Linked DNA regions of Homo sapiens: region 2 is reported to be linked to region 1. The links are microRNA targets in miRTarBase. Many come from high-throughput screens and were not tested one by one. Region 1 holds a microRNA gene; the other region holds the end of a gene's coding sequence.
Evidence for each region. The annotated mature microRNA hsa-miR-6809-3p reads CUUCUCUUCUCUCCUUCCCAG and lies in region 1 at 2,621-2,641, shown strand. An mRNA with a match to its seed (bases 2 to 7 or 8) in the 3' UTR can be bound and repressed. Matches are read on the target gene's strand: a 7mer-m8 pairs with bases 2 to 8, a 7mer-A1 pairs with bases 2 to 7 and ends in A, and an 8mer does both.

Region 2: miRTarBase lists DHX33 as a target of hsa-miR-6809-3p. Seed matches in the 3' UTR shown: 7mer-A1 at 1,009-1,015 and 7mer-A1 at 2,002-2,008.

What each region holds. Positions count from the first base shown.
Region 1 is chr2:217,898,898-217,903,153 of GRCh38, reverse strand. MIR6809 (microRNA 6809) reads left to right here and starts at 2,526; the gene lies at 2,526-2,641. TNS1 (tensin 1) reads left to right here. Exons shown (of 33, transcript NM_001387777.1): 7 at 2,642-2,691.
Region 2 is chr17:5,440,887-5,444,886 of GRCh38, reverse strand. It overlaps DHX33 (DEAH-box helicase 33), which reads left to right. Exons shown (of 12, transcript NM_020162.4): 12 at 374-3,970. The coding sequence ends at 682. Among named protein-coding and RNA genes, the nearest start is that of C1QBP, 3.7 kb to the right of the region's middle.

The sequences.
Region 1 (4,256 bases):
TGAGCATGAAGATTGGAGGCCCAGGGATGACCGGATGCCTTGTGTTACTCCCACTGTGCTTGTAAAAAGCCTACGTGATGAGGCATGCTTCCAAAGGCACCATCTCTAGCCTCGTGTGAGGTCACCTGTGTTTCTGGAGCAGTAGGGTGTGTTTGCTGACATGCCGTGCCCCTGCCCCAGCCCATTTGTTGTTCTCTGAGTTCTGTCTGTCTGTGTGTACCGACACTCAGACGTGTCACCGTGCATGTCTGCTGTCCGCCAGCAAGGGTCACGTGCCCCCAAACTTTGCAGAAAACAGGAAGCCCCGTCAGTGAGAGGGCAGCCCAGTGATTCATCAGGGGATGACAGTCCCAGCTGTTCGTCCCCCATCCTCTGCACTGGGGTCACTGTCCAGGGTGGCTTCCTCCCCATGCCTCCCCTCCCCTCCCCGCCCGGTGGAGCAGAGCGGGCTTGGACTTTGCCTTATCACCTCTGGAGGCGGCCTGGCCAGACTCTGTTTGGGCCAAGTTTTTATTTATCTTCACTGGCTTTTTTTGGGGTGGGGAGGCTGAGGAATGTGGAGTGTTGTAATGTTTGGAAGAGGGCGGTGGGGAAAGGGGAGCCAGGTCTCCTGTCCTGCTTGTCCTGCTTACCCCTGCACCTTTGCAGGCTCCCGGCCCCCCTTGGTTCCCCAGTTCCCCCTGCCAAGCCCATATCAATATGGCCCATTGTCTTTCTCCAGCTCCCTGGGTCTGGTCCCATGCTCCTGGCCACACCTCACGTCTTGGCTACCGTTGTGGCTTCCAGTTGTTCAAAGCAGCTGTGGTGGCTTCCTCCAAAAGTGGCTACGGATCAGCAACAGATGAAACTCAAGGGGCTATTTATAGCAGGGTGGCCCTGGGGCCTGGAGCAGGGCCTAGGGCCTGGGGAGATTCAGGGACTCCTCATTAGGGACCAGTGAAATGGAGATGGGTGAACTGTTGGGTTTCTGTGTTCCTCTGAGGGGGCAGTTTTGGAACAGCCTGGTTTGGGTCTTGAAAACCAAACACAGTCACTCGTTGACTCCCAGCTCCACCCCTGTCTAATCCCCCCACCCCCAAGCTTGACTCATGCAAACTGGAGTCCTCAGGGCCAGAAGAGCTGTGAGACTTAGAAACTTCCCCCCAGTAGCCCCACTTGGCTCTTCCCTCCTTCACTGCTGAGGAGCTGCTCATTGGTCCGAGGCAGCTGGGACTCTGGGCAGAGCCTTCTTCCGGACAGCTGGATGGAGGGTCCCCCTCTTAGCAGAGCTGCTCTAACTTGGGGCTCAGCTGGGAGCTGGACCTCGGAACCCACCTATCCTGCCTCGTAGGCACTGCGGAGCCAGGAGAGGGGTGCAGGGGCTCCTCTTCTTGGAGACCCCGTGGTCAAGCCCCAGGTTGGAGTGTGAATCCTGCCTGGCCGTCAACTTCCCAGGGACTTGAGGGTAAGTTATTCTGTGCCTCAGTTTCTTCCTTTCTTGGCAGATTGTGGTCCTGTCTCTTTAAAGAAGAGGCTGCAACTTGGCGGTAGGAAAAGACCATTTTCTGAGAGGCACATGGGTGTTTGGAAGGTGTCAATGGGCTCAGGAGGTCTGAGAATCTAGAAACTGGCCTTCCCAATTCTGCATCCTGTGAGGTGACTGGAAGGATGGGTAGAGGCGATGCAGGGTGTTGGTTTTCTATAGAGGTGAATGTTTGGTTGTAACTACCCTTTTCATTTTTCTTGATACAAAAGTAACAACAAAAACAACAGCTGTCATCTGGTAAATACCAGGCATGATGCGAAGTGCCTTATATGCATAACTCCTTTGGATCCTCACTGCCAGCCTGAAGGTTGTCCCATTTTACATGTGACATTACAAGAGGCTCAGAGGGGTTAAGTAACTGGCAGGGCTGCCCAGCAGGATCCTGGAATCCAAACTCTGTGGTCTGTGGGCCTCTGACCCTGTGCTTTCACACCCGCCATGCCATCCTGCTGCCCTGGGATGGATTGGGCCCATTTGCTTAAGTTTGTACCACTCGACAGCTGTGAAAAGGGGAGTGGGTGAGATGGTTACTGTCTGCCACAGACAGTGGGGAGTGGGCCCTCAGGAGCATGGCTCACTGTCTTAGGCCTCGTCTTGGTTCCTGCATGCTCCACCTGCCTGTTCTGGTCTCTAAACTCAATTGAATGACTTGATGTTACAGCTTTCAAGCAGAGAAGTGTGGGGTGATGGTGGCAAGACAGAGGGGCGCCATTACTCTCATCGCTCCTTTTGTGGTGGCAGTCGTATTCTCCTCCTGGGGTTTCTCTTGTGTTGGCGAGTGTATCAAAGTGAAGTGTGTTTCCATTGATTCAGTAACTGTTGAGTGTGCCCTCAGTGTGGATGGCACCAGCCCAGTGGGGTGCACTCCTCAGCATTCGGGATTCTTCCTTTTGTCCCTCTGGGGCTTGCACACAGGCAGGCACACTCACGTGGAATCAGTGTTGATGGCTTTGGCTTCGGGCAGGCTGTGTTTTTGCAGGGGTTAGGGTGGCAGGGCCAGAATGTTGGCAAGGAAAGAAGAGGATCATGTTTGCCCCCGTGGACAGCTCTCTGGTGTGCTCCTCCTGCCATCCTGCCCACCCCTGCATAATGCTGCTTCTCTTCTCTCCTTCCCAGGGCTCCACCAGGGTCACCCCGAGTGTCCAGCCCCACCTCCAGCCCATCAGGTATGCCTGGCCCGTGGGGGCAGGGGGCGGGAGTGCAAGCAGGGGGGTCACTGTGGGTGTCCCTGTTAAGTCTTGCCTCTGGGTCCCCCGGACTGCAGCCATAAAGCCACGGGTGGGGAGTGTGGGCAAACGTGAAAGGCACAGGAGAGGATGCGTGCGGATGCCGTTGGCAACAGTTGTGTTTTGAGCTCTTAGCCAGCCCTTGAGCTGAGTCTTTATTTACCTGCATGAGCTCATCTAGTCCTTGCAACAACCCCGCAAGGTACGTATTTTATTCCCTTTGGTAGAGCAGCATTTCAGAGAGATGAGGTGACTTGTAAAGGTCACACAGCCACCAAGAGGCAGCACTTGGATTTGCGTTTAGGGCTGATGAGCATTGAGGCCTGTGCTGGATCTCTTCCTCTCTGCAGACAGGATTCTGACTGGGCAGAGTCATTTATGAAAGGGAAGTTCCCTATCTGGCTGGGCTGGCAGGGGCCGGGGGAAGGGGATGCACAAGGGACTTTGTGTCCTGGCGATCCAGAGAGTTTGTTTTGCCCTCTCTGCCTCACCTTCACCCACTGAGGCTCCTGAGATGATTGGGGATGCCAGCCCTGCAGTAGAGTTGAAGCCCCTGGAAGTTTCTGGCCCAGCTGCCAGCTGTCCACAGACTGGAGGTGGCTCCTTAGAGGATCCCCTCCTTCCCTTAGACCTGGGCAGGTGGATGCAGAGTGTGATGCTGAGGCTGTCCGGCTGGTGGCACTGTTCTGCATTTGCGTCCTTCCTGGGATCCAGCCTGTAGACAGGGGCGGGTCAGTGCCCCAGATGGGCCACGTCTGACTCATGGCCCTCACCAGCACGGCCCCTCTTGCTCCCCTTCCTGTGCTGAGGGAGAGGCTGAAATCACAGGAGCTTGTCTTGCGAGTTTTTCTGACATTCTAGTTTCTTCCTTGGAGCCAGAACAGAGAGGGGTTTTGGAGGATGGGGAGGAGGGGATGCTGCAAGTTAGCTGAGGCTCCCCGCCCTCACACCCACTTGCTTGCAGGTATGTGTGCGTGTGGCTTCTTGTCCCAGACTGGTCACCACCTACAAGAACTGTCCTTGGGTAGGCAGTTGGCTTGAGATAGAAACTTCTCCCCCACAGCTGCAATGAGAAGCTTTCCATAGGGACAAGAAGTAGCTGGGACTCAGAGTCAAACTCAAACCGGGCTCCTTACCTCTGGGTGCTGGTCCCCAGTCCCACTCAGGCCCCTGTCATCCCAACAGAGAGGTCCTGCCATGCCTCATCCTTGGCTGCCCCATCTCCACACCCCACCTGGACTGGGATTGAACCCTGGTGGAGGTCTGGATTCCTCATGGCTTCTCAGCATCTGGGGGCTTGTTCTGTCTAGTGCCAGAGAGCCCTCATCACTTTTAAATACCCCAGTGGTATTCCTTTCGCTGCCCTCCACTCTCCACTTTATCCCGCTGTGGTGAAAGGTTAGCAGAATGAAATGTCAGTGCTGCCTGCATTTGATAGAGGGGGAAGCGAGACACTAGGAGGTCAATGATTGGGGAAAAAGCTGGAGGGATGGGGGAGGTGCTTC
Region 2 (4,000 bases), not on the chromosome of region 1:
GTGAGGAGATGGTGAGATGGTCAAAGCGAGAGGGAAGGGCCTTTCCTTTCCGGGCCGTCCTGATGGAATTTAGGTGAGGGGTGGGTCACCCAACCTGCCTGTGGTCTGGTGGCTAATGTGAGCACCTCCCTCCCAGCCCTACCTTCACAGGCGGTAGTTTCCCTGTTTCTGGTCCGTGCTCCTCCAGCTGGGCCTTCTTCCCCTGACCTTGCTGATCCTTGGTGACCACCTCCGAATGTCAGAATCCACATCGTTAGGCTCACAATGTGGGCTGCTTTTGCCCCAGTGGGTCCAGTTGCCCCAACACGCTGTGTAGTGCTGACCAGTGTTTACGTGTGGGGTCGGCTCCATTCCTCGCTTTCTCCCGAAACAGATGTCAATGCCAATCGCATCATCCCGAGGAGACGTGGAGAGTGTCCGCCGCTGCCTGGCTCACAGCCTCTTCATGAGCACCGCCGAGCTTCAGCCAGATGGCACCTATGCCACCACGGACACCCACCAGCCAGTGGCCATCCACCCGTCGTCTGTCCTCTTCCACTGCAAGCCGGCCTGCGTCGTGTACACTGAGCTGCTCTACACCAACAAGTGCTACATGCGGGACCTCTGCGTCATAGATGCACAGTGGCTGTACGAGGCTGCCCCTGAGTACTTTAGGAGGAAGCTGAGAACCGCCAGAAACTGAGCCGCCCCAGGATGCCGCCAGAATCACTGGTCCCTGGGAGCTTGGACTACAGTTGTCCTTACAGCAGGCTTCCAGGTTGGCGCTTAGAGAAGCCTTGGAATCAGCTGAAGGTGCCTGACTTCCAGGAGCGTGAAAGCATCTTTGCTCAACTCCTGGGACTGAACCATATAGACATGGACATATCATTTGTACCTGGAAACCTCAAAATTATGCTTTTGGTTCTTACTGGGTGACTTTGACTTAATTTAACACCTGAGCCTCAGTTTTCTCATCTGCCAAATGGGAGTAATAATAATAATCCTTATAAAATTGGGTTCATAAAGTTTAGAGAAAAGGAATGGAAAGTACCCAGAACTATGCCTGGAGCACGCACGACACACGTACAGTGAGTTGGGAGCCGTTAGGCTGAATGTTACTGCTTGCCATATGATGTGAAGTACAGCAATATCCCAAGTTCTTGTGACTGAGGGAGATTTTCTGGAAGGGCCACAGGAGGTTGCGGAGCTTGGATGTTGCCCTTAGTTCTTGTTTAATGTCTCTCTGAATGCAGTTTTAAAATAGAAAACAAAACTGACTTCTGTAGAAGTTTCCAGAGGGAGGTGCTGTTATCTCGTACCTCCTGGGATGGCGATCCCTACTGAACGCTTGTGTCTCAGGGTGGACCACTCTGTGTCTGTCTCCAAGCAGAGACCAGTAAAGGAGCCTCCTGGTCCTCAGTGCGTGACCCTGTCAGTGCTTTCAGGAGACATGTAAGCTTCCTGGGTGAAGGTTGATTTGTACCTTCTGAATCCTGTCACGTGTAGACATGGGAAACTGACCTATCAGTGTTTTGTGTGTGTAGGTGACTCCCACATACACAGTTGCCATTTTTCTCTCTAACTGGGCACCAGTGAACATGCGGGCATGAGGAGTGACTGTGTACCATTTCAGCTGTTTCTTTTCGGGCAGTCCCCTGGTCAGAGGGGGTGGGGGTGGGGGAGGGGAGAGGGGTACCTAGAACCCAGAGAACATTGGCTTATGCCAGATACCACACCACATCTGGGCTTACATTCTTGTATCTTTTTTGGTGTGTGGGCGGGGGGGGTGGGGGGCAGTTCAGTGAAGTCTAGAAGACCTGCTGGACAAATTCTAAAAGAGCTAGAGCTGTAACACTTATTCTTGCATCTTATTAATTTTCTATGATATTTTTTCCTTCTTCGTAGGGACTTGGGACAATCTGGCTTTGCTGCTTTCTAACTGCTAGGCACCTCTCTCTAACCCTCATTGTCAGAGGGAATTGGAGGATATCCACAGTCTGTTCCTGTTCTGATATTCTGAGCAGAGAAAAGGCACTAACGGTTCCTCTTAGCTATTTAATTATCAGAAGCAAGTAATCTTTCCCCAGATAATATTTTGCCCTAGAAGAAGCCGTGATTTAGCTCTTTTATTGTGCTTACTTGGTCCAAATACATCTGTGGGGTGTTTTGTCATTTCTTAATGAATGAATCATAGTTATAACCAGGGGCCAAGCTGCCCAAGAGGCTCTTCAGAGATCATGGATGCTCTCTTTCTGGAAGCTGTGGCCTGATGGAGCAGCCCCATTCCAGGGTCCCATCTGTCCGGAGTTGTGTATGTCAAGTCCGGCTCAGTCTTTATTTCCAACACTAGCCGTGGTCCTGTGCAGTCAAGCTCTCAGCTAGTGTTTAGGGCTGTCTGTCAGAAATGGTTATACGTGGGCAAAAGAAGATCTGACAGCTCCTATATACCTTATCTTACTGAATTCTTAAACTTTGAACCAGTTCTTCCACTTACTGACTTGTTACCACTGCTGACTTTCTGAAAAGTTTTCCAGTTTTTGTTTTTTGTTTTTTGTTTTCCAGTAGGGGATTAGAATGTTTAGTCCTACTTAGTAAGAAAAATATTGTATTTTTAATCATTCATAGTGCTGGTAAAAAAAAAAAAAAAAAAAAAAAAATTGGGGGGTGGCCGGGCGCAGTGGCTCACACCTGTAATCCCAGCACTTTGGGAGGCCAAGGCGGGCGGATCACCTCATGCCTGTAATCCCAGCATTGGGATGGGAGGCTGAGGTGGGTGGATTGCTTGAGAAGTTCAAGACCAGCCTGGCCAACATGGCAAAACCCCGTCTCTACTAAAAATAGAAAACTTAGCTGGGCATGGTGGCACACGCCTGTAATCCCAGCTACCGGGGAGGCTGAGGCACAAGAATTGCTTGAACTTGGGAGGCAGAGTTTGTAGTGAGCCAAGATCACGCCACTGCATTCCAGCCTGGCCGACAGTGTGAGACGGTCTCAGAAAAAAAAAGAAAGAAAGAAAGAAAAAGAAAAAACTTGGGGTAATTTATGTCCAGCTTAAGTACCTGAACAGTTTCCGGAAATGTATATTTTTTTTCTGAGAGGCAAAGGATGTAAACAGCTTCTAAGTAGCTTTAATGTTTCTGTACAGAAATAAGTTTATCCCTGTAACATTGTGGTAGAGTTTTAATACAGTATTTAGTTTTTTATTGGGCTTTTTTAAAAAGTTAACTTTTAACATAGCTGCTCAGGGATTAAATCAGATTGGAAAACCCATTCTGACTCCACATACTGCTACAAAGAAATACATCGTTGTTTATATTGAGCTGCAGGAGATAGTACACTTTAAACTTAAGAAAGTTAAATGTTTCACAATAACATTGCAATATAATCTTCAGCTACTCTCTTTCCATTGGTAAAATCTCTGATGGTGTGATAACTCTTTGCCAACCTACGAAACCCATATCTGGAAGAATCACCAGCTCCCGTGAGCAGCTTCATGTAAATAGATGCACTCCAAGCAGATTGCATGCCTCAGGTGTTTGTCTTCTAGTAATCATGGAGTGTGCAACACCCAGAGTAACACTACAAGGGGCAGGACTGCAAACAGCAGGTCCTGGCTAAAAACCCTTAATGCTGCATTGCTGCCAGTTGTAAAGAGATGCCTGAATGGAGGCAAGTTCTGCCCTGTGGGTGAAACTGATGATGTACTGTACTGTCATATATAAATCCACTAAATCCAGCTACCAGGAACTGCCTGGAACTGTGGCCATGCATTTTTTTTTTTCTTTAAAGACCAGTGTGATAGTAGGCCATGCATCTGAGATACGATATTCCTTGGTAACTAGAGGGAGAAAAAAAAATCAAGTAGGTTCAGGCTTATGTTGTATTTTGAGAGTCTGGTTTTATTTGAACAGAAATAACTCTACAGAAAGCTCTTGTAAATAATGCTCAAATTTGCACCCGACGATCAAATCCATTAAAAATGAATCTTGTATATGATGTGTGTGGCTTGTTTCTTGCATCT